7 linked regions of the Homo sapiens genome follow. The protein of the gene in region 1 purifies or fractionates together with the protein of each later gene. This does not show direct contact. Each region holds a gene or a part of one and is shown in the gene's direction. Other genes may lie near its edges. The genes, in order: DUSP5, PUS7, ANKRD17, C11orf58, C2CD5, POPDC1 and DLGAP3.

Region 1 (4,064 bases):
CAATGCTGGCTGTCCTGGTGTCTGATTTGATTGCATCTGATTTCAAAATTTGATCTCTGCTTCCTTCTGAAAACCTCATTCCCTTATGTCAGTTGTCAACAAGCCCTTGTCTAGTGCGGGCAGACTGTTTTCCATCAAGCAGTCCCAGCCAGGCTAACAATAAAATGGTTGGCAGTGAGCTTGGGGGCAGAAACCTGTTTCCATCCATGTGTCCCCGCAGCTAGCAAAGCCCTGGCACACGGCTGACCCTCAATAAATGCTTGCTGAATGGGTGAATTGTGTCTGCTTCCCCAGGAATAGGGGTGGGAGGCCTGAAGCCCCTGGGGACCGGTGGGGGCAGACAGCCTGAGATTAAACTTGATCCATAGATAATCCCCCAAATCCAGAAGCCACCTGGACAACAGTTGGCTGAACTGAGCTCCATCGTGGGATACATGCTGATGGTACTGCTGAGTTCACCAAGGGTCTCCCCGGGACCAGAAAACAGCTCCTCAAAATACAACTTATTATTCTAATCATTATTGGAGAGTGACAGAGAAAAGAGCGTCAATCCTTTGAGGGCAGAATCCATTTAGGAAGATTAAATGGCTATTCTCACCGCCGACCCCCAACCCCCGTTTTTACTTTTACAAACTTTATTATGAAAAATATCAAACATACAGAAAAGTGGAGAAAACAGTATAACGAATCCGGCCACCCATCACCCAGCCTCAGCGATGACCAACCCGCGCCTGACCTCTCCAGTCATCTATACCCCACCCCTCGAGGCAAATCTCCGACGTCCTCTCCTTACACGCGCAGACCTCGGTAGCGACGGGAATCCGTTCCGGACTCCTCTGGGGCCCTGGCCGGCTCCCTCGGCCCTGCTCAGCGCGGCGCGGGCGGGTTCTCAGCCCACGTCCGTGAAGCTGAAGGCCGGATCGTGCGGCGCCGCCCCGCCCCCCACGGCGCTTCCTCCTCGGTCCGCACCGCGAGGGTCACCGCGGCCCCGGAGCGCCTGGGACACTCGACCGGCAGCCGCGGGTGATGCGCGAGTGAGTCCCTCAGCGAAGCGCGGAAGAGAGAACGAAGAGGCGCCTTCCACTTCCTCTCGCTCTAACGCCGGCACCCGCCCCGCGCGTCCCTCGCCCCCGCTGCCCCGCCCCCTGCAGGGCGTGGCCACGGCCCGAGGGGCGGGGAAACACCCATATTTGGCCTTATATGGGCAGCCGCGTCACGGACGGCACTCATTCACATAAAACGCTGCGCGGCCGGCGGAATCCCCGGCTTCTAGGGCGGCGAGCGGCCGGGCTGGCTATCGAGCGAGCGGGGCGGGAACGCGGAGTTGCGCCGCCGCTCGGGCGCCGGGCTCCGTCGCGGCCGCAGCCCCGCGGGTCGCCCTCCCGTGCCTCGCCCGCGGACACCCTGGCCGTGGACACCCTGGCCGTGGGCACCCGCGGGGCGCGCGGCGCGGGGCCGCTGGCCGGCGGCGGCGGCGGCATGAAGGTCACGTCGCTCGACGGGCGCCAGCTGCGCAAGATGCTCCGCAAGGAGGCGGCGGCGCGCTGCGTGGTGCTCGACTGCCGGCCCTATCTGGCCTTCGCTGCCTCGAACGTGCGCGGCTCGCTCAACGTCAACCTCAACTCGGTGGTGCTGCGGCGGGCCCGGGGCGGCGCGGTGTCGGCGCGCTACGTGCTGCCCGACGAGGCGGCGCGCGCGCGGCTCCTGCAGGAGGGCGGCGGCGGCGTCGCGGCCGTGGTGGTGCTGGACCAGGGCAGCCGCCACTGGCAGAAGCTGCGAGAGGAGAGCGCCGCGCGTGTCGTCCTCACCTCGCTACTCGCTTGCCTACCCGCCGGCCCGCGGGTCTACTTCCTCAAAGGTGAGCGCTCGGGGTCCCTGCCACGCTCGCCCCTCCGGCGCCCCCGGGTCCCCTCCCTGCGCCGGGGCGCCCTCCTACACCCTGGGACCGGGAGAGTCACCACCTGCAGGAGTCTGCACCCTGTGGCTTGTTGTGCGCTTGGGAGGGCACTGCAAATGTCAGCACTCAGAGCTCCCCCTCTTCCCCACCCGCGTTCCTCGAAAGCGCCCGGCAGCGGGTCTGCCCGGTGGTCTGGGTGGAGTTGGTTATGCTGCGGGGGCTGCTGCTGTTTAGCAGTTTGGGGGCCGTCGGCTCGTGCCGGGCACGAGCCCCCTTTCCAGACGCGAGCTTCGCCGCTGTCGCTGGGGTCAGGGCTCGGGGCCTTCCTGATAGACTGATCTGGCGGGATCAGCAGGTCGCGATCCACTCTCCCTTGGTGTGGCGCCGTGGTGCCCCCCTTCCTCCCGCCTAGCCAGCTGTGGTCTTCACCGACCCCCTTGCCTTTTTGACCTGGCGAGTCCCTTCCCTTTCCATTTCATTTTATTGCTTTTTATTGTTTCCCTCCGGCCTCTTCTCCCCTCCTAGGTCTTTTCTCTAGCTCAGTTTGGAGCTCACATCCTTTCCACCCTTTTCACCTCCTCCTTCCTCCGCCCCAGGATTATCCCTGGGACCCATCCTGAGCTGAGCCTACAGCCAGCCAGCCACGAAATAGAGGTGCGCGGGGGCAGGGTGGTATGGAGATTCTGCGGCCTTTGATTTGACACCTCCCGGAGCTACCGCCACAGGCCTGCCCATTTCACCTGCCGGGAAGATAACTTTGGCTTCTGGTGGTGGGTGGGTGATTGACTCTCAAAATCCAAAGCATTGGTTTTTTCTGGGTTACTTCCTATGACTGCTCCTGCTTTGTGTTTGAGTCCTTTGTAACCTCAAATGACACCCGGGGAGACCTGACCCACATGTAGAGATGAGGGTTTAGCCCCAGCAGGGCCCCAAGGCCGTGCCAGCCCTGGCGCGGACACCTTGGGATGTAACAGTGTTGGGGATCAGAGCTCGGTGCAGAGAGCCGGCGCCGAGTTAGGAGCCTGTTTTAAAGCCATGCAACTTGAGTTTCACACAGTCCGGGCCAGGAAGATTCTGGAGACAGTTCCCCTCTCTGCTAGCACCTCCTGCTGACTGGTCCCCTGTTGATTTCCTGTTGGAGAGTTAACAGAGGTAGATGGTAATCGTCCTTCTTCTAACAGCCTATCCCCCAGGGGATAGAGGGTTGGCCCTCTGGCTCTGCAGAGGTTTCAGCGTGCCTCCTGATTTCTTTCTCTTCCTAATATGGTTTTTATCTCCTGTGGTTTGGAGAAGTTTCTGCCTCAGTAGTATGAAAGAGGTTCCAGGAGACCCTCCCTGGTCCCACCTCTCCTCCCCATGCTTCTCTAAGCTGGCCCTGCTGACAGTTTAGAAGTTGTCGCCACAAAGTAGGCAGCTCTATAGACTCACATCTCAGGAAAACTGGGTTAAAATGTTTTTTAAAAGAAGGTAACATATACACAGGTAAAAATTTGAACAGCATGAAGGCCCTGTGATGAGAAGCGGGTCTTCTGCATATCTTAGAACCCAGTTCCACTCCCCAGAGACAGTCGTCAACTATTTTTTGTTTACCTTTAGATAGTTTTTCATAAGTATCTTAGAAATAGATTGATTTTGTATAGTCCCTGTCCTGCCTCTTGTATCTATCTAGATCTTGGAGACTTGTCCATATCTGATCATACATGTCTGTTTCACATTGAACCGGTCTCCTGTAATGACCATTAGGTTGCGTCCCGCCTCACTGCTCCAAGCAATGCGGTAGATGTCCTTCTCCATGTGCTCTTGCGTGTGCAGTGCCTTTCAGTAAATCATGAGAATTGCCAGGTCAAGAATTACATGCATTTTAAGTTTCAGTAGAAATTGCTTCATGCCTACCCTTATAACACTACTAAACTTTAAATTGTTGCCAGAGAAAATTTTTATTTCTTTACGTAATTCATGTGCAGATAGGAGTTCAGGTTTTAATCTGGTGGCATCTCAGATCTTGGTGGGGGCAATGCCTTTTGACACTTTCCATAATCCCCTGTCTCCCAAACAACCACTAAAATGAAATGGTGATGACTGAATTGCGTGGTCAGTGCTTATTTATATATAGTATCTGTGCTCTCTCTGTTCCCTGGTGATGTGGTGGTGATTGAAAGCAGACTCA
Region 2 (3,500 bases), on another chromosome or scaffold:
GCCTCCCAAGAGCTGGGACTATAGGCGCCTGCCACCCACGCCTAACTAATATTTAGTAGAGATGAGGTTTCACCATGTTGGCCAGGCTGGTCTTGAACTCCTGACCTCAAGTGATCTGCCTGCCTTAACCTCCCTCAAAACGCTGGGATTACAGGTGTGAGCCACCGCGCCCGGCCTGAAACCAGCTTTTATATAGGTGATTGTTACTTTCTACTCTTTCCTAACAGGTTTTCTTAAATGTTTTCTTGGAGCCTTAAAGATGGAGATGACAGAAATGACTGGTGTGTCGCTGAAACGTGGGGCACTGGTTGTCGAAGATAATGACAGTGGAGTCCCAGTTGAAGAGACAAAAAAACAGAAGCTGTCGGAATGCAGTCTAACCAAAGGTCAAGATGGGCTACAGAATGACTTTCTGTCCATCAGTGAAGACGTGCCTCGGCCTCCTGACACTGTCAGTACTGGGAAAGGTGGAAAGAATTCTGAGGCTCAGTTGGAAGATGAGGAAGAAGAGGAGGAAGATGGACTTTCAGAGGAGTGCGAGGAGGAGGAATCAGAGAGTTTTGCAGACATGATGAAGCATGGACTCACTGAGGCTGACGTAGGCATCACCAAGTTTGTGAGTTCTCATCAAGGGTTCTCGGGAATCTTAAAAGAAAGGTACATTTAGTTTATGAATAAAGTTATTTTGATTGTATTAGGTTTCTTCTTTAGAAAGAAATTAGCTTTATATTCTTCCACTTAGCTTTCCATCTCCAAGGCTTGTTTATACTACTGATCAAAAGGAATAGGATGAAGGAAACCTGCCTGAATAAATAGCCTTGGATTTTTAAATTTTAATTAATTAATTTTTTCCCTTTTTTTGAGAGAGGGTCTCACTCTGTCACCCAGGCTGGCATGCAGTGGCATGATCATGCCTCAAATAAATTCATTCACCAGGCACAGTGGCTTACGCCTGTTATCCCAGCACTTTGGGAGGCCGAGGCTGGCGGATCACTTGAGGTCAGGAGTTTGAGACCAGCCTGGCCAACATGGTGAAAGCACATCTATACTAAAAATACAAAAATTAGCTGGGCGTGGTGATGGGCACCTGTAATCCCAGCTACTCGGGAGGCTGAGGCAGGAGAATAGCTTGAACCTGGGAGGTGGAGGTTGCAGTGAGCCGAGATTGCACCACTGCATTCCAGCCTGGGTGACAGAGCAAGACTCTGTCTCAAAAAAATAAGTAAATGAATAAATTCATTTAAATGGTTTCAGATTTTCTCCTGAGTTTGTTTTATAATCTTAAACTCTTTTTTCATTTGAATGTGCCACAACTATGTTAGAAGAAGGTAGTCTTTGGAGCCAGGTGGATCCCAGTGTGAAGTTCGCTACTTAGTAGTTACTTAGCCTCTCTGAACCTCAGCATCCTTATTTAAAAAATGGATCAGGCCAGACACGGTGGCTAACGCCTGTGATCCCAGCACTTTGGGAGGCCAAGGCGGGCAGATCACTTGAGGTCAGGAGTTTGAGACCAGCCTGGGCAACATGGCGAAACCCTGTCTCTACTAATAATACAAAAATTAGCCTGGCGTAGTGGCACGCGCCTGTAATCCCAGCTACTCGGTAGGCTGAGGCAGGAGAATCACTTGAACCCAGGAGGCGGAGGTTGCAGTGAGCCAAGATCAAGCCACTGCACTCCAGCCTGGGCAACAGAGCAAGACTCTGTCTCAAAAAAAATAATAGTAATAAAATAAAATTTTTAAATGGATCATATTACCACATTGGGGTTGTTGAGGATTTTGAATAATGCATGTAAAATATTTAACATAAAGGTAAGCTTCAGGCTAGTTCATGGTAGACTTACTGGGTTCTGATTCAATTAACCATATAGCATATTTTGTGATTTAATTTAGTGTGGGCTGCCTGAATCGTCATAGGGTAATGTTAATAAGCTTTTGTTTTTGCATTTCTCTGGAAGAATATTCTAGAAGCTAAGAGGGTCTTTTCTTTAAGTTCTCATATAAAACTTGAGCCAAGGTATGGCTCAGCATTCATTAAGAAACCAGAAAAGACCGGATGTGGTGATTCACGCCTGTAATCCCAGCACTTTGGGAGGCCAAGATGGGCAGATCACTTGAGGTCAGGAGTTCAAGATCAGCCTGGCCAAAATGGTGCAACCCCGTCTCTACTAAAAATACAAAAATTAGCTGGGCGTGGTGGCACGTGCCTGTAATCCCAGCTACTCGGGAGGCTGAGGCGGGAGAATCACTTGGACCCAGGAGGCGGAGGTTGCAGTGAGTGGAGATCGAGCCACTGCACTCCAGCCTAGGCAACAGAGCAAGGCTCCATCTCAAAAAAAAAAAAGAAAAAAAAAATTAACTCCATGTGATTTTGCACTGAAGATTTTTTAAAATTCCTTGTTTTGCATAATAGTAAGGCTTGCTGTTGATCAACTTTATCTTAAAATTAATAGAAAACAGGATGTTAATTATCTGAAAGTTCATGTTTTCTTTCATCAGATACTCCGACTTCGTTGTTCATGAAATAGGAAAAGATGGACGGATCAGCCATTTGAATGACTTGTCCATTCCAGTGGATGAGGAGGTAGAAGTAGCTCTTTAGCAAATGTCACCTTCTGTATAAAAATAGCATTTCCTAGAGATTTAGAAATATAGAGCTTTATTAAACTTGAATTCTATGTATGATTCATTGTGAGTTCTCATGGTTATTTTAAAGGACCCTTCAGAAGACATATTTACAGTTTTGACAGCTGAAGAAAAGCAGCGATTGGAAGAGCTCCAGCTGTTCAAAAATAAGGAAACCAGTGTTGCCATTGAGGTAACTAATGCAAAAATATATGAAAAATTATTTAGGGTTTTAGTTGCTTTTTGGGTGGATGTTAAGTGTTTATGGAAAAAATTACAATGGTTAACAAAGGGTGACTTTTTGCTCTATTGGATCTAAAGGATATTACACTAAAAAATTTTTTTACTGGGGCAGATAACTAGTATCCCAGATAAACTATAGCCCCCCCCAAAGTTACATTTTTGTTTAAAAACATTTTTATTTGGGTACAGTGTTACATGCTATTCCAAAGTCCTAGCTACTCCGAAGGCTGAAGCCAGAGGTTTACTTGAGCCCAGGAATTGGAGACTAGCCTGGACAACATAGTGAGACATCATCTCTGAAAAAAAAATTTAGGGACCACAAATGAACAGCGACATATGTTGTTTAGAATCCCAGAGTACCAATTATACCACAATGTCCGTTGTAACAGGACCACCATTTGCTGTCTGTCAGGTATGTGACCCAGGTCAGATTCTGGCTTCAGCAGCTTCTTGGCCTCAGTTGGGACTCTGGGAAGGGGAGGAAATGGGGAAAGGAAGTAGGGGAGCATTTATTTGCTCATCGTGGGTCAATTCTGCTATTGAAGAAAAGGAGAGCTCAGCTACTAAGTAGAATAGTAAATTTTGTTGTTAAAGCTTTTGTTCGCCGGGCACGGTGGCTCACACCTGTAATCC
Region 3 (3,500 bases), on another chromosome or scaffold:
TTATATCTTCATGTTTTGCCCTTTAATTAATGAAGCAGTTTACATTGTGTGCTGTGGACTGTCATATCTGAAAGCAAAAGCCTTGTCTTACTCATCTGTATATCTCCTGCTATACAGTACCATGTGTCTTATGTAAGTCTTTGTATCTCTGCTAGGTTCTCATGAAGTCCCATCTCTGTAGTAAGAATAACTCATAAATATTTCTTTATTAGCCACCTACTGTGGGAAATCTTTGGGACTTCAAGTCTTGAGGTAACAGAACTTGGTTGCAGCTATTATTTACAGTAGATCCCTGTGGGATGTTTTAATTGAACCATTATTTTTAGTTTAGTCATTTTTAACCTCACCAACTTAACTGGAGTTAGTATTGTGAAAGTTTTCAGTGTTTAATAAGCATCAAAGTAGCATATTTTGACTCTCGGAAATTCACTAGACTATCTGTTTCTGCTGTTACCTGATTATGCCATCTAGTTGATTAGGAAAACAGTTTTTAGGTCCTTGAGGCAGTGCAGTTGCATTTATGACAGTAGTTTATCTGAATTTTTATAAGGATAATTTAATGGGTTAAAAAATGTGGATTTAATGAGGACCTTCATAATTTTTCCATACTTGACCACAGATGAAAGGGAATTTTTACTTCACATTGGTATGCGAAGTAGTGCCTGCTGGTACCACTTATATTTTTGTTAGGACCAGTAGGAGGCACCAACATCCATGGTGTAACCTACACCAAACCTAACTTTTTTCAGCTTTCATCTTTTCAAAAAAAAAAAAAAGTAAGTCATTAGGGAATTGAAGGTGGTGGGTAAATACGAATACCCTTCTAGTCCCTTGAATCTTACCTATCTGGTACAGTTATGTCCATCCACTTCTTACCCAGAAGCAAAATACCCTTTCTGACTTAACAGTGCTTCACTTCTTAACATTTTTTTGTCTTTAGAAATTATTATTATTCATTCCTGAAGGGATGTAGAGTTGTGGGACAATATAGGTATCATTTTTATAATGATTTATAATTTGGGGTTTCAGTTATTGAAAAGGGAAATGTTAACTGTTATTTTCCCCAAGCATGCTATGAAACTTCAAATAATATAGCTCTAATTATTGAAAGCATAACTTAGACTGCCTTCTGTCCTGTGAAACTCATAAACATTACATGATCTTTTAAAGGAGTCAACTTTTTGTGTGTGTGTAGAGATGGCGTCTCACTTTGTTGCCCAGGCTGGTCTTGAACTCCTGGCTTCAAGTGATCCTCCTGCCGCAGGCTCCCAAAATGCTGTGGGATTATAGGCGTGAGCTACTGCATCCAGCCTGGGGTTAGTTTTTAAGTTTACTTCTGAGTGAGACTAGAGATAAAAGAGAGTGGGGAGAAGGAAATGTAAAGATTTTACATTTGAAACATCAGAGTGCTAAAAATAGAAAAATTAGTCGGGCGTAGTGGCTCCCGCCAGTAAGTCCCAGCTACTTGGGAGGCTGAGGCAGGAGAATTGCTTTAACCTGGGAGGCAGAGGTTGCAGTGAGCAGAGATCGCGCCCTTGCACTCCAGTCTGGGCGACAGAGTGAGACTCTGTCTCAAGCAACAACAACAACAACAACAACAACAACAACAAAAACCGTTACAGTACTTGAGGAATTCCTATTGGAGCCATTATTAGTGTCTTTAAAAACAACTCTTTTTTTCTGTTTTTTTTTTTTTTTTTTTTTTTTTTGAGACAAGGTCATCTATGCTGGAGTGCAGTGGCGTGCTCTCGGCTCACTGCAACCTCCACCTCCCGGGTTCAAGCAATTCTCATCTCACCTTCCTGAGTATCTGGAGTTGCAGCGTGAGCCACTGCGCCTGGCTAATTGTTTTGTATTTTTATTAGAGTTAGGGTTTCACCATGTTTGCCCGGCTGGTCGCAAACTCCCGGCTCCAAGTGATCCGCCCGCCTTGGCCCCCAAAGTGCTGGGCTTGCAGATGTGAGCTACTGTGCGCAGCCTTTATAAACAATTTTGATATATGGTGAAATTTCTCAAAGCTTGCTGATCATAGTGAATTATGCTGATAAGAATGGGAAACAAGATTATTGGGAATAAATTGAAAAATATTAAATAGGTTTTTATGCGTCAAGGGTAAAAAAAATGTGTTTTGAGTAAATGATCTGAAATACAGCATGCTTTTTTGGTAAAAGCTTAGTATAATGTAGGGTGAAGTTAAGGCGTTGGCGATAACCAGAATCATAATTCTCATTTTAAATAATGCTATGCTACATCTGCACAAAATAGATTATGTATATTTTTGGCTGCTGTACCATGAAAATGATGACTAAAACGAGGTCTAGAGAGGGATAGTTTAAAAATGATGGTAGGGCTAGAGATGGAATCCATGATTGAGGAGGACTGTAGATTTTACTTAACTATATTCTTTCTTTTTAATTTATTTTTATTTTATTTTATTTTTTTTGAGACGAAGTCTCGCTCTGTCTCCCAGGCTGGAGTGCAGTGGCGCCATGCCGTCTCACTGCAACCTCCGCATTCCAGATTCAAGTGATTCTTCTGCCTCAGCCTCCCAGGTAGCTGGGGCTACAGGCGCCGGCGCCACCACGCCCGGCTAATTTTTGTATTTTTAGTAGAGACGAAGTTTCACCATGTTAGTCAGGCTGGTCTCGAACTCCTGACCTTGGATCCGCCCCCCTCGGCCTTCCAAAGTGCTGGGATTATAGGCGTGAGCCACAGCACCCGGCCGATTTTACTTAAGTATATTCTTATTGCTTATTACTTCATACTCAAACTGACTTATAAGGTAGAGAAAATCATAATGTGTACCAGATAGTGCTATTTCAGTTTAGAAAATAAATTCATTTTTTATTTCTTGAGATTATTTGAAAGTACATTGTAGAAATGGCACATTTATGGAACTGCTTTATGGCTGTGCCTCTCTTGCAGGGAATTTTGCCTCCCCCTTTCCTTTTCCCAAAAATACTATTAGCTTGCCTAATTTAACCTTTCACTTTTTTTATCCCCATCTTCCCCCACAAAAGAAAGGAATAGAAAAGAAAAATACGAAAGTGAAGAAATAAGAACCTGCTCTAAAGTTATTTCTTGGTCTGGGTTTCTTTATGGATCATCTCTTAATTAGCTTAAAAACATTTGATTGAAACCTATTTTGGAAGTATCTATGGAAAGGTTGGTTCCATTAGTTTGGAATTTAGAATAAATATATGTTACCATAGAGATCTATTTTCCTTTCCCTCTTTTCCTGTCAACCTAAATGTGAAGATTGACAAGAAAAGGAAGCCCACCTGTTTGTGTTACAGTTAGTGTTAGAAATGCCTTTGACCCCATTGTTGTCTCTTTCTTTCTCTGTGCCATGTTTATTTTTTTAATGGCATTAATAATGAAAACAGTCTTGTTTCAAAGCCTCTAGTATAGCACATACTAGAATTAACTCCTACAGGAGTTAATTCTTTTACCTGACAAACATTTATTATCTCCTATGTGTGGCTGTTTTCATTGTCTAA
Region 4 (3,500 bases), on another chromosome or scaffold:
AGGCACGATAATTGCCTGAACCAGAGAGGCGGAGGTTGCAGTGAGCCAAGATAGCACCATTGCACTCCAGCCTGAGTGACAGAGTGCAACTCTGTCTCCAAAAAAAAAAATTAGAAATGTATAATAGGTAAACATGTTACATATATAAAGTATCAATTATCATGTACTTTGATTTTTAAAAGATGAGAGAGTATATGTCATTATGATATTCTAACCAAGAAACTAACCTTTTTCTGTCTCCATTTTTACTGATTCAGAACATATATTTTAATTGTAGTGAGGTTTTATGCCTCAACTTGTTAACTCTGGTATGTACAGAATTTTTGTTCTTTGTATATTAGCATATAATGTCATAGTTGGCATTTGGTTTTGTGTATTCACTAAATTTTGTTTTAAAATCTTTGAAGAATATAAACTAGTTGCAGGGCCTAAAGAAATAAGCTTTTAAAATAATTTTAGGGAAGAACATTTTTAAATAAAAACTGAAAATGAATTTGGGTATTTGGTGTGCTGAAAAGTGAAATTTTTGCCTATTTAAAACTGACCCTAATCTTGGACATTAGTAATAAAAGGCACATATTAATAAAAGACACATTGACCTAGATTATGTTTAACAAAACTTTAAGTTATTTAAATTATGCTAACACAGCATATGTAGCACATTTTAGAAATTCATAGATCTTTTATTTTTCTAGTGTTAAACAATTACTTCAAATTGATTTGTATTGCTACATAAGGCAAAAAACAATTCCTGAACTTTGCAGAATGGAAAAATATTTCAACTGCCACATTTACTCTTTTAAAACTGAGAGCTTTAAAGCAGGAGCTCCCAATCCCCGGTACCCATCCCTGGCCTGTTAGAAACTGGACCACATAGCAGGAGGTGAGTGGCACGCAAGCCAGAGAAGCTTTATCAGTATTTACAGCTGCTCCCAATGGCTTGTATGGCCACCTGAGCTCCGCATCCTATCAGATCATTGGCAGCATTAAATTCTCATAGGAGCATGAACCCTATTGTGAACTGTGCAAGCCAGGGATCTAGGTTGTGCCTCCTTATGAGAATCTAATGCCTGATGATCTGAATTGGAGCTGAGGTGGTAATGGGGAGTGGCTGCAAAAACAGATTAACATTAGCAGAGAGGCTTGACTGCACAGAGACCGTAATCAATCAACTGCTTGCAGACTCATATCAAAACCCTCTCAGTGAGTGGCAAGTAACAAGCTGCATCTAGTGGCAGGTTTTAAGTCAGAATCTGACATTTAATCTGCATGTGGCCTGCCCATTACTTATTTACCACTTCCATCCATGTCTCTTTCCTGCACTGTGCATTTGTCTCAGTCACAGTTTTGGTAAGCCCACAAGCTAACCCTAGCCAAAATGAGTAAAAAAACAAACGTCCTTGGAGAGCTTCTTTGAAAAGGGGGAAAGACCCAATGATGAGACAGCAGAAGACTCTAATACTGCCAACAAAGAGAAAGTGGCATTTAAAAGAAAATATCAAGAGTCCTACTTAAATTGTAGGTTCATTGCAATAGGTGATTCACATTCTCCAAACCTGCTTTGTCTAATATGTGATGACCAGCTATCCAGAAAAGCCATGAAACCTTTAAAAGTGCTTCACCACATGGAGACCAAACACCCTGCATTAAAAGACAAGCCTTTGGAGTTTTTCAAAAGAAAAAATCGTGAACGCAAAGAACAGAAGTAATTATTGAAGGCCACCACTTCATCAAATGTGTCTGCAGTGAGAGCATCATTCTTAGTGGCTAATCACATTGCTAAAGCTAAGAAGGCCTTTACTACTGGTGAAGAGTTGATCCTGCCTGCTGCTAAGGACATCTGTTGTGAACTCTTAGGAGAGCCTGCAGTTCAAAAGGTGGCACATGTTCCTCTTCTGGCTAGCACCATAGCTAGATGAATTAATAGAGGATATGAGGCACAGTTGTTAGAATTAATGAGTCACTGTGGTACCCAATCCAGGTTAATGAGTCTACCAGTGTTGACAGCAAGGCAACAATGCTTGTTTTTGTGTGATACATTTTTCAGGAGGATGTGCATGAGGATATATTATGTGCACTTTTGCTTTCAACCAACACCACAGCTGCAGAACTATTCAAGTCTTTAAATACATATCAGGAAAACTGAATTGGTCATTTTGTATCGATATATGCAGGGATGGAGCAGCTGCCATGACTGGACGGCTTTCTGTTTTCACTACTCAGGTCAAAGAGCTTGCTTCTGAATGTGAGTCTGTGTACTGTGTCATCTGTAGAGATGCTGGCTAGTTGGAAAATGCCACCTGAACTTACCATTTTGTAGGATGTGCTTAAAATTTTCAACCACATTAAAGTACATGCCCTTAATTCACATCTGTTCATGTAGCTCTGTGAGAAGATAGACACAGAGCACACGTCTTCTCTTATACACAGAAGAGAGACGGCTTCCTAAAGGTAGATCACTGGCCACTGTTTTTCAGTTACAATAGCTGCTCCAGAGATTTCATTTTAGAAAAAGTCACCACTGGCAGCACATTTCGTTGACACAGAATTGGGTCACAAAATTGCTTACTTGGCCAGGCATGGTGGGTCACGCCTGTAATTACAGCACTTTTGGGAGGCCAAGGCAGGCAGATCACTCAAGGCCAGGAGTTTGAGACCAGTCTGGCCAAAGGGGAGAAACCTCGTCTTTACTAAAAAATACAAAAATTAGCTAGGCATGGTGGCACATGCCTATAATCCCGGCTACTCGGGAGGCTGAGGCACGAGAATCACTTGAGCCTGGAAGGCAGAGGTTGCAATGAGCCGAGATCATGCCACTGCACTCCAGCCTGGGCAAGAGAGCGAGACTCCCTCGAAAAAAAAAAAAAAACTTGCTTACTTGTGTGACATATTCAATCTGTCACCTCAGGGGAGAACAAAACTGTGTTCAAGTTGGCAGATAGAGTGGCTGCATTCAAAGCCAGACTAGTATTATGGGGGCCACAAGTGAACATTGGGATTTTTTGACATGTTTCAAACATTAGCAGAGATTTTAAAAGAGACTGAGCCAGGACCTTTTTTCTCCCAGCTGGCACATGATCACCTATCTCAGCCTTCAAAGAGTTTGAGTATTATTTTCCAGCCACGAAAGAGCCCCGAACTGGGAAGGAATGGATTCACAACCCATTTGTGAATAAGCCAGGTGAATCGACTTTGTTCATGCTAGAAGAGGATCAGCTGCTTAAGATCACAAATGATGTTGCCCTTAAAAGTATGTTTGAGACAACTTCACATCTCCATACATTCTGGATTAAAGACAAAGTGGAACATCCTGAGATTGCCACGAAAGCACTGGAAAGCCTGCTTCCATTTCCAACCTCCTGTCTTTGTGAAACAGGGTTTTCTGTAGTGACAGCAGCCAAACAAGATTACAGAGTAGACTGGACATAAGCAACACACTTAGGGTGTCACTGTCTCCCATCACCCCTAGATGGGACCGTCTAGTTGCAGGGAAAACAAGC
Region 5 (3,500 bases), on another chromosome or scaffold:
AAAATTGCACTGGGAAATAGAACAACTTTCACACTCTCCTTGTAATAATTTGTTCCTACAGCAGATAATTTTAATGCTCAGCCGCTTTTTCTTTTTCTTCACTTTATAACCAATCATTGTGTGTGTAGCTATACTGCATCAACATTTTCTTTTGCAGGAATGCCATTTTTCTTCCAAAAGAATTCCATTCCAGCATTTCCTCTCATGTTTTTCTGTCTCTCTTTTTTAATTGCATGCAGTGCATGATAATTTCTTTTCTTTCATGACATGGCTTAGCCTCACAGACAGCTGAATGTTGTCACCACTTATTTGGAAACCTCAGGGAATAATTGTGTTACCAGCGTCTGTTCTGAATGTTTTCTCATTTTTCTCCAATTTTAGCCATGACAGTTGAAAAAGCAAGTCCAGTGGGTGATGGAAATTTCCGGAATCGTTCTGCTCCACCTTGTGCAAATTCCACAGTTGGGGTTGTTAAGATGACACCTCTTTCTTTTATTCCTGGAGCAAAAATAACTAAGTATCTTGGGATAATTAACATGTTTTTTATTCGAGAGACTACTTCTCTTCGGGAGGTAATTTTATAGAAGTTATTTCATTTTTTAAAAAATTTTCTCTGAAGATTTAGTAACAAAACTAAGTTTCAAATTGTTATTTTTTGCCAAAAACTTACAAATATTTATTTATATTTTAATTATCTGGATTGAGTCTAGAGTTTATTTCATTTAGCAGCGAGGATTATCACAAGAATTGTGTTAGTTTTAAACCTATTTATTGTTAGAAATCTTAGAACCTTATCATATAGTAAATAAAACAAATATCTGTGTTCAAATAGAAGTTTAAAATAGCCCTGAAAGAACAGCTTCGTTTCCTCAGTAATTTAGCAATTTTTGACAGATCACATTTAGAAATAGTAGAGGACTGTATTACAGATACATGTCTAAGGAGATACTTTATGTAATTTAGCTCTGCTGTTTCTTCCTCCTGAGAAAGGAATGAAGCTGCTCATTTTTTACTCTCTCAGTTAGTGTATGAGGATGACATTTCTTCAGTCTTACCTCACACTGAGTATCATTAAACTTTAATTTGGTTTTTAAATAACAAGTTGTAATATTTTACTTGATGTGGGAAAAGTTCAGAATCAGAGTCAGCCTGTTATATCTTTTATAACACAGGAATTTAAACTTAAAAAAATTACGTTGTGTCATATGTTAAGGAACAGGGGCTACCAAGCAAATTAATATGGTGAATAGGGAAATTTTTTAGTTACTGAGGTGTGACATCCAATAACCTTTTCAAATTTTACTTCAGCTGCAGTTTGTATTTTTAAAAAGTATATTCATTATAAAGATGACTTAGCTGTGCCCTTCTTCACCAGCAGTATTTCTATACTTTCTTAGGAATAACAGCCTGCACACTGTCTTTAATATCATACTCACCATCCTGCGCCTAGCACAGTAGCTGGCATGGAATAAACACAATATGTTTTTGTGCAAATAAATGAATAGCTTCTGACAGATTATTTAATTAATTAGATGGATGTTTTCTTTAAGGTAAATTAGGCCAGGCACAGTGGCTCACGCCTATATTCTCACCACTTTGGGAGGCTGAGGCGGGTAGATTGCTTGAGGCCAGCAGTTTGAGACCAGCCTGACCAACATGACGAAACCCCTTCTCTACTATAAATACAAAAATTAGCCGGGCATGGTGGCACATGCCTGTAATCCTAGCTACTCAGGAGGCTGAGGCACGAGAATTGCTTGAACCTGAGAGGTGGAGGTTGCAGTGAGCCGAGATTGCGCCATTGCACTCCAGCCTGGGTGACAGAGTGAGACTCTATCCTTCCCCCCAAAAAAGATAAATTAGTTTTTATATCACTCTTAATTACGTTAAGATGAAAAATAAACTATGAAGATATTCTCAAAAGCCTTTGGATAGAGAATTAAAATAGATGATACTTCTACATCCATTTAAATTTGACAAAGATTTGGTGCGAAAAGCTGGCATATATTATGAATTAACCTTTTCTACTTGCTCTTGGTAGCACATGGATATTACACTATTTTGAATCCATAAAATTGTATTTCCTAAGCCTTCTTGACTACTTAAGCTCCCATACCTCAAAATGTTGCTTCTTAGTAGGTTTTCCTTCAACAGAAACTTATAATAATAATTGTGTAGCACCATATCCCAAATGTGTTAATTGCCTGAGTCGTTTTCTTACAGTTAATTAATATTTTTAAAATTAATCCTCTGTAGCTACTGTGTCATCAGAATTTTTTGATTTAATAAACAGGAAATTGATAAAACTCAAAAAATATACTGAACTATGATTGAGTTGGAGGCAGGCTGAAGCAACTCCCTTAATTCCCTAACTACAAAAAGAGATATCTTTATACAACTATATGTAGGATCCTCAGGCTTTTCAGAAGGATGTGACCCAATAAAATGGTTTTCTAATACTGCAGTCATTTTTCCCCTTCACTTCCAGTTTAAAGTTGGAAATTTCCTCCTAGACTGTAAATAAGTCCAATAGAATTTGTGGAAACCTAGGTTGAAAAGCATTTCAAGCTATTGACTAGCCTTTGATTTCTGTTTTGCTTGTTTTTCAATATGGGAAAAGTACCCTGAACTACTGGATTTTATTTCCTTACAATTATATATGGAATTCTTATTATATGCACCTGTTGAACTAGATGTTAGCATATAGTTGTATGCAAAACAGATACAGTCCCTGACCTAATGGAATTTACAGTCTAGTAGAACTGGAGCACGGTGGACATTAACAAATAATCATATAATTAGTATCTAATTACTAGGGAGAGTAAGTAATATAAAGAAATTGAACAGAGGCTATCAGAGTATATAATGGACTTCAACTTAGAGTTCACAGTCAGAGAAGGTATCTCGGAAGACATTATATGTAAGTTGGGACCAAGGAGTGAATGAGTTGTTCTCTGAAAAAAAAAAAAAAAATGAAAAGTCTGCAGGAGCAACATGTGCCAGTGAGCCTGAGGTAGGAAGAGTGCTTGTGCATTTGAGAAACTGAAAAAAAGGCAAGTTTGATTGGAACATGGTTCAGGTTCAGAATGAGAGATATAGATAACAGGTAAGTTTTATCGTTTAGGCTTATCATCAATTTGTTTAAATGATGATGAGCATGATATGATGGAGATGTTGAAGGTGGAGGCACAATTTGAATTCTTGCCTTGCCATTTACTTACTAGCTAATTTGATCATAGCTAGTCATGGGCAAATTACAAATTCTCCGGGCTTCAGTTTTATCATCTGTAAAGTAAAGGTAGTAAATCCTTGCCTGGACATGTGTTCAGTCAATGTTTGTTCATTCATGCAGTAAATCCCCATTGTGAGGGAAGTTTAAGTTATTTGGTATATTAAGATAATTTAGGATGTTTTAATATATATTCTTTGACATTTTGTGTGCATTCCTATATCCATACACATGTATATATAGTATGATTTTCCTGTGCACTATTATTTAG
Region 6 (2,836 bases), on another chromosome or scaffold:
ACTGGACACAGTGGCTCACACATGTAATCACAGCACTTTGGGGGGCCAAGGTGGGTGGATTGCTTAAGCCCAGGAGTTCAAGACCAGCCTGGGCAACATGGCTAAACCCCATCTCTACAAAAAAAATTAGCTGGGTGTGGTGGTACATACCTGTAGTCCCAGCTACTCAGAAGGCTGAGGTGGGAGGTTCACTTGAACCTGGGAGGTTGAGGTTGCAGTGAGCACAGATCACACCACTGCACTCCAGCCTGGGCAACAGAGTGAGACCCTATTTCAAAAAAAGGCTGCTTTCACTGTACTGCTGCAGCAGTCTCTTCAGGTAGCTAAATTAGGAGCTTGTTTTGGAGAAATGAAGCAAAGGTGAATGACAGCCTAGGCTTGAAATTATAAAGCTCTCTCAGGTTGAACTCTCTCGTGCGCTCTCGCTCTCACTTTCGCCCTGTACCTGAGAGCACAGGTGTAACTGTGATGTCATAGTGCCGAGACTACTTTCCTTTAACCATTGGGGTTAAGTTGGGCAGCCCATTTAGTTTACACGCGCATAAGACTAATTTACAAAATCACTCTATACAGTCATTAGATGTAACATCCTTCCCTGAGTAGAAAGTAATGCATGTGTTTGGAGATTATTTTCTGTAATGCTGGGAACAAACCTGTTTTAAAAGCACACTGCTAAAAGTAGGTGATATAAGACCATTTGCTGTTTTTATTAAAGTATGTGTGTGTATCAGTGTCTCAATGTGAAGATTGTAACCTCAAGATTAGGAATCTTAAAAGAGCCACTTAGCCTGAATGGGAAACGTGAGACTATTTTTAAACACACACCTCTAAGGAAGAAGCCTCCCATATAGACTTGATCTCAAAGAAGCAGATAAGAAGACAGAAAAGTGTTTTAAGTGTAAGATCTCCTATGGAGTACTTTAAATTCATTTATACAAATGAATAAGTGTATCTTTGTATAATGCATAAATACATAGATAAAAACATGTTTGCTGCCAAAGTTCCCAATAAGATGCTTCCTGTGTTTTTTGGCCTTTACTTAGCTGAATGATCAAAGTTCAGAAAATGGTCTGCAAAAGTTACTCCATATACAACCCCAAATCTACTACTTTAAATGTAACATCAACTCAGTTGTATGAATCTGGAGTGTAATATTTATATTAGAATGTATATGTCATTTAAAATATTTTGAAAGCCCTCATAAATATTTATATTTACTAAACTAATAGCATAGACACTATATAAATCCGCAGTGATGCTTATATATCTTAAATTAGTAATAATGGGTGCTATATAATTATTTTCAGTTACTATCCCTGACACTCTGGAATCTTCTCCATTTCTCCCTATCACTCAATTTCATTTTAATCATTGGACACCTTTGCGTTTTGCTGCTAACAGTGTGTGTATGTCACCCTCTTTATATCTGGTTTTCCCACTTGTCTGAAGCTCTCCTGATCTTAGAACCTGGAGCTGCAGATTCCTCCATGTCAGCTCCCATCACGGCCCCAAAGACAGAGTCACTTGGTTGCTGAGTCACTTGGTTGCTGGAAAAATCTTTGGGGAAAGCTGGTATAAGCTACACACTGACCTGTCCCCAGTGTTTCCAGGTAATGACTTGGCACTCCAGAGAAAGTTTCATGCTGTTGCGTGTGGTGGCTCCAAGCCAAGCACCTGGCATGCAGGTCAGCCCTTCCCAGCGGGCGTGGCGTCGTCCTCTTCACAGATGCCACGTTGCAGCCCCAAGGCCTCACCATTTTGCGTTTTTTAGAAACCCATTTTCTTGGTCATTTATAAAGCTGCTTTATAGATATCTTTGATCCTGGCATGCCTTGGTTTCCTCTCCCTTCCCTCTTTCCAATCCTGGTTTCCTAACCTCCTCTTGTAGTAATTCTCAACTCAACTCAAAGTCCCAAGAATTTGGAATGGTAGGATGCTGTGCGGGGAGCTCGAGGCTGAGGCATAATCACTGCTTCGGTTCTGCTCATCAGGGGACACGCTCCCTTACTCATGGCAGCCATGTTTGATTGTCACAGAGCCCCCCGAATACTCTGTCTATAGTGACACACTGTAGGTGTCATAAATTTTAAGAAACCTGCTTTTAAGTACTATTTATAGGTTTTTCTGTTATACTTGCAACCTAGTTTTAAAATACATGAGGATTTTATGAAAGCTTTATACAGACATTTATAGGAAACTCATTCTTTGATTTTAGGTGCCATTTAAATTGATAACACTTACTTTATAAAAAGATGCTTTTTGTCTGGATAGAGCCTTATAGTTTAAAATATCTTCATATATTGCCATTTGATCAAATAAATTTCTTACTTAGAAAATGTGTGTATTTTTTATTTCATTCCTCTTACATATATCTAGCTTGTTCGAATGTCATGCCCAAAGGCCAAGGTTGTGGGGATGGGCCTGGTGCAGGCCATTGTATTCTGAGCAGACCAGCAGGGGCGGTGCTTGTGGGTCGGTCATACCTGACTTCAAAGGTCCTGCCATCTTGGCTGCTTTGACTGTGAAAAAAAAAAATGGCCAGAAGGCAGTGTAGACAGTGTTGACTAGATGCAGCAATGGAGAAGCCTTCAGAGTTTTATTGATGGGACTTAGTGGGCTTCAGCTTTTTTTCTATTGCATCTGAACATTCACTCCCTTCTAGTTTCCTAAGATTCAACAATATGAGGAGTCACATGAAGGAGTCAGAAAACCTCCCTGGATCTGTTCTGTGGTGGATGAGGGGGACAGTCTTTCTATTCTTTGAGAAACCCACGTTTTCTCCCATCAGCTGTCCTAGATATTGGAATGGAAACTTGACAGCCCATCTTTTGGCCTT
Region 7 (4,025 bases), on another chromosome or scaffold:
TACAGGGAGGAGAGCCGGTGGCCCCACAAGGAAACAGAGAGCAGGGAGTTGTTGGGGTGCGGGGTGGGGGCCGTTGAATCAGAACAACTCCAAGGTATGTTCCTAGAGAGGTGGGCAGTCTCAAGCCTCCCAAGCCCACACCTCACCATCCCAAGCTTTCAAGACCGGAAAAGGTAGAGGAGGGAAGAGGGCTTTAAGGATGCCCACTGAACCTCCACCCCCAACTTTCAGCGCCGGAGGCAGTGTTTCCTCACACCTACCCTGGAAAGCCGGAATCCGGAGCCACCCCTTCCCCCACGTCTTCAGCCCCTCCCCCTGCGGCTTCCCCACCGTGGCCCCCTCCCCCCCATTACAGCATCGCTCTGGGCGCCAAGACGGATTCAAGCCAGGGGACTGCTGCAGTCCGCTCTCCGCCTCTCGGCTCCCGCAGCCTGTGTCCGGGCTCCGCAGCCTCCAGCTGTGCTTCGGACAGTCCCTTTCCCCCCACCCCGACCCCGCCATGGCACAATCCCAGGCTCAGGGCCCAGAGGCGGGCGGGCACAGTGGGCACGGGCGGGGGCCCAGCACAGGCGGCAGGTACAGCGGGGCTCTCCCTCCACACTGGGGATGCCTCGGCTGTGCGGACTGTGGGTGGGGGACGCCTGCCAGCGGCTCCGAGGCCGGGCACAGCGCCCCATCCTGGCAGGGGCTGGGGCCGAAGAGGGGGGCTCCCTGACCCCAAGCCAGGAGCTGAGGTCAGGCGGCCGACCGGGAAAGCCCGAAGGAGAGTCTCCTAAGCGGACGGGCCTGGGGGCTGTGTGTGACATTCAGGGCGTGACTGCCCCTCGGCGGGGGGCGAGACCCGGTCCGTGAGGCTGAGCTGGTCCCCGACCGCCCGCCCGCCGCCGGGCTTGGGTCCCTGTACCCAGGTCGGCTGTGCGTGGCCGTGACACTTCGGGTGCCTGTTCCTGGGTCCCCGGGGAGGGGGATCTCATTCCTGCCCCTACGCTGGGCGCCCCCAGCACCGTCGCTCAGCGAGGTGGGCGCTCCTCCGGGACCCCGGCGGCCGCCCGCGGGCGGCGACCTCGGCCCTCCTGGGTCCGCGCGGGGGCGGGGAGCTCGGTCCCCCTCCCTCTTCCTCTCCCTCTCCCTCTCCCTGCTCGGCTGCCCTGCGCGGGGGCGGGGGCGGGGGCGGAGCGCGCGGGCGGGATCCCCCCGCCTCCCCTTCCCGGTCCCCGGGAAATCCAGCCTCCGTGGCTTGGCCGCCTCCCGCTCCCGCGCCCGCTGCCGCTCGGCGCTCGCTTGGGGCTCCGCAGCCGGCGCGGCCCCTCAGCTGGGGGCTCCGCAGTGCCGGGCCCCGGTCCCTGCCCGCCTGCCCAACGCCGCAGCGCCCCCGGCCCGGGCCGCCGGCACCATGTAACCCGGCCGGAGCCCGAGCCGGGCCAGGTAAGCCGCGGGGAGGAGTGGGGACGGGGCCGCGCTCGCGGCTCCCTCTGCAGCGCCCCCCAGGCACGGCCCGGCTGCGGCCCCGGCGCCGCCCACGCCCCGGGCTCCGGCGCTCGGCTCCCGGCCCCGGGAGGGGGGAGGGGCTGGGCCTCCTCAGCTGCCCCCGCTCCTGCCCCGGCCTGGCTGCCCGCGGGCCCGACCCGAGGGGCGGGCAGGGGACCACGCGGACCGCGGACCCACGCTCCCGGTCAGGGCCGCGGGGACAGGCCAGCCCCGGCCCAGCCCTCGCCCGGCTGGAGGCTCGGGTCTGGGAGGGAGTAGCCAGCTGGTTGTGGGGGAAGTCGTGGTGCTGGGGAGATCCGGAGAGAAGTTTCCTCTGCAGGTGTGTGAATGTGAGTGCGTGTCGCTGTGTGTCTGTGCCGAGTGTGTCACTGTGTGGGTCTGTGGGCGATTGTGTGTGCCGGTGAGTGTATGCCGTGAGTGTGTGCGTGTGTCACTGTGGGCGAGAGTGTGTGTGCATGTTAGTGGGTGTATGCAGCGTGAGTGTGGAGGGTGGTACTGTGTATGCATCTGTGGACATGTGAGTGAATGAGTGTGTGTTGTCCCCATGTGTGCCTGTGTGTGTCTGTGAGTGTGTGAATGGATGTGTGTGCCGGCGTGACTGTCTCTGTGAGTGGGTCCCGGTATCTGCCCTGTGTGACTGTGTGTGTGTGTGTGTGCGTGTGCGCGCGCGTGCGTTGGCTGTGTGAGAGAGAGTGTATCTGAGCGCGGTTCACTCTGAATCACCCACACCTGGGCTCTGTCCCCCCCACTGTCCCCCCATTCCTGGTGGGATATGGGACAGGGAGATGAGACTTTTCCGAGGTCAGATCATTCCCCACTTCTCTGGGGACCCCTGACCCTTGATTCAGGCAAGAGCTTTGTGGCACTCCCCAGCTTGGTCTCTACCTTCACCTACCTCAGGGGGTGCCCTCTGGGATGTTGCTGGTCGTGTCCTTCCTGCATGCTAAGGCCCCTGGTGGGTGGGAGGGGGGATCTGGGGCGAGCTGGAGTATGTGCCTGCGTGTGCTGCTTCTCCTTTTGGGGGCCTGGGAACTTGTGTCATCTCAATAATGTTTCACCAAGGGCCTTTTAGAGCTAGGAGATGAGGAGGCCAGGTGGAAGCGTCTGCCCTGTTAGTCATCAGAGCAGGTGGCGCTCTCCCAGACTTCCAAGTCCCAAACCTTCAAGTTCTGGGTTATTGGTTCAGTCCACTGGCTCCGGGTGGGTCTGTACTAAGCTCTTTGAAGTAATAATAATAAAATAATGCCCTCATATTAGTTCAGGGCTTTTGAAAATGCTGCCCTCTGAACTCTTCTTATTTCCCCAACAGCCTTGGGAAGCAGGCAGGACAGGTATCACGTTAAGCCATATGCAACTGCAATATTCAACTGTTTTTATTTAACCTACAAAAACAGCAATTTCATATGGTTCAACCAAATATAATGCCGATTTACAGATGAAGATGTTGAGGCTTGAGAAATGAATTGCATTTTCCACAACCACACACTGCTAGTTAGTGGTACAGAAAGACCTCAGCCCAGGTCTTTCAGTGACCCAAAGAACTGGGCTGGGCCAAGGTTAGAGAGTGGTACTTCCTGGTGTGCTCTCTCTGACCCTGGGGGCACTGCCCTCTACCACTGCGCAGCATTCCCTGAATGCTGGGGCTACTTCTGCACCCAGCTGCCAATGCCTAAAAGAGTGGGGGGTGGGGGGAGAAGAGAGGAGGGAGGGGAGGGAGAGGCTTCGTGAGTTGGCAGTGAATCAGGGTCTAAAAAGGGAGCTGGGAGGGCTAGGGTGGCAGGTGTTTCTAAAAGGAACATGAACATAGGATGAACGGCCTCACATACAGCCCCCGCATCTCCCACCCGCCACTGCCCCACTGATCTGGCAGGCAGGGCCCGCTGAGTTTTGTGCCAGGGGGCTCACATCCAACGAGTGAGCTTGTATGTAGCTGTAGAATGATGGCCAGGAGAGGAACCTTAGTATTGACTTGGTCCAACCTCTTCATTACAAACCGGGGACTCTGAAGCCCCAAGAAGGGAGGGGACTTGCCCAAGGTCACACAACGAATTTGTGAGTTCCTAGGCTAATCTTAGACGAGGAACTTTGCAATCCTCCATGTTGCCTTCTATTCCTGAACTCTCCCCACCCCCATCAGAGCTGAGTACAGGGGATTTTTGGAAAAGAAATGAAGACTCAAAAAGCCTAAGGCTGTACATCTTTCAGCTTGGGACTCCTTGCCAAAGAGAGGGCGCTACAGATGTCGCTGGGGATAGGGATTCCTAGCCACACCCACCACCGAGGTAGGCCATGGGCTTGTCTTGTCTTGATTCCTGCTGGTGAGGGGCTGGAGCTGCTACAGGCCAGACTCCCAGACTTTCTCATGTTAGTACCTGCTTTCAGCGGCTGCCTGACACCTAACATCATCTCTTCCAGCTGATGTTGGGGCTCGAGCTGGCTAAGCTTGTTTTCCTTCATCCTCCCCAGTTTCCAGTGCATTTTGCCTCTAGCTGGATAGACCATTCCTTACCTTATTGGGTTCCTAATGAATAGAGAAA

What was found.
Region 2: the proteins of DUSP5 (region 1) and PUS7 purify together in Homo sapiens (affinity purification with mass spectrometry, with the first as the bait; one large-scale study listed by BioGRID). This does not show direct contact.
Region 3: the proteins of DUSP5 (region 1) and ANKRD17 purify together in Homo sapiens (affinity purification with mass spectrometry, with the first as the bait; one large-scale study listed by BioGRID). This does not show direct contact.
Region 4: the proteins of DUSP5 (region 1) and C11orf58 purify together in Homo sapiens (affinity purification with mass spectrometry, with the first as the bait; one large-scale study listed by BioGRID). This does not show direct contact.
Region 5: the proteins of DUSP5 (region 1) and C2CD5 purify together in Homo sapiens (affinity purification with mass spectrometry, with the first as the bait; one large-scale study listed by BioGRID). This does not show direct contact.
Region 6: the proteins of DUSP5 (region 1) and POPDC1 purify together in Homo sapiens (affinity purification with mass spectrometry, with the first as the bait; one large-scale study listed by BioGRID). This does not show direct contact.
Region 7: the proteins of DUSP5 (region 1) and DLGAP3 purify together in Homo sapiens (affinity purification with mass spectrometry, with the first as the bait; one large-scale study listed by BioGRID). This does not show direct contact.

Annotation. Positions count from the first base shown.
Region 1 is NC_000010.11:110,496,643-110,500,706, forward strand, and holds the start of DUSP5 (dual specificity protein phosphatase 5), read left to right. Parts: upstream 1-1,264; 5' UTR 1,265-1,479; coding exon 1,480-1,858; intron 1,859-4,064. UniProt on the Homo sapiens protein: Dual specificity protein phosphatase; active with phosphotyrosine, phosphoserine and phosphothreonine residues. The highest relative activity is toward ERK1.
Region 2 is NC_000007.14:105,505,272-105,508,771, reverse strand, and holds part of PUS7 (pseudouridylate synthase 7 homolog), read left to right. Parts: intron 1-227; 5' UTR 228-259; coding exon 260-657; intron 658-2,498; coding exon 2,499-2,583; intron 2,584-2,715; coding exon 2,716-2,817; intron 2,818-3,500. UniProt on the Homo sapiens protein: Pseudouridylate synthase that catalyzes pseudouridylation of RNAs.
Region 3 is NC_000004.12:73,248,799-73,252,298, reverse strand, and holds part of ANKRD17 (ankyrin repeat domain-containing protein 17), read left to right. Parts: intron 1-1,710; exon of another isoform or gene 1,711-3,500.
Region 4 is NC_000011.10:16,748,647-16,752,146, forward strand, and holds part of C11orf58 (small acidic protein), read left to right. Parts: intron 1-3,500.
Region 5 is NC_000012.12:22,454,043-22,457,542, reverse strand, and holds part of C2CD5 (C2 domain-containing protein 5), read left to right. Parts: intron 1-381; coding exon 382-572; intron 573-3,500. UniProt on the Homo sapiens protein: Required for insulin-stimulated glucose transport and glucose transporter SLC2A4/GLUT4 translocation from intracellular glucose storage vesicle (GSV) to the plasma membrane (PM) in adipocytes.
Region 6 is NC_000006.12:105,096,322-105,099,157, reverse strand, and holds the end of POPDC1 (popeye domain-containing protein 1), read left to right. Parts: 3' UTR 1-2,336; downstream 2,337-2,836. UniProt on the Homo sapiens protein: Cell adhesion molecule involved in the establishment and/or maintenance of cell integrity. Involved in the formation and regulation of the tight junction (TJ) paracellular permeability barrier in epithelial cells.
Region 7 is NC_000001.11:34,926,851-34,930,875, reverse strand, and holds the start of DLGAP3 (disks large-associated protein 3), read left to right. Parts: upstream 1-1,225; 5' UTR 1,226-1,425; intron 1,426-4,025. UniProt on the Homo sapiens protein: May play a role in the molecular organization of synapses and neuronal cell signaling. Could be an adapter protein linking ion channel to the subsynaptic cytoskeleton. May induce enrichment of PSD-95/SAP90 at the plasma membrane.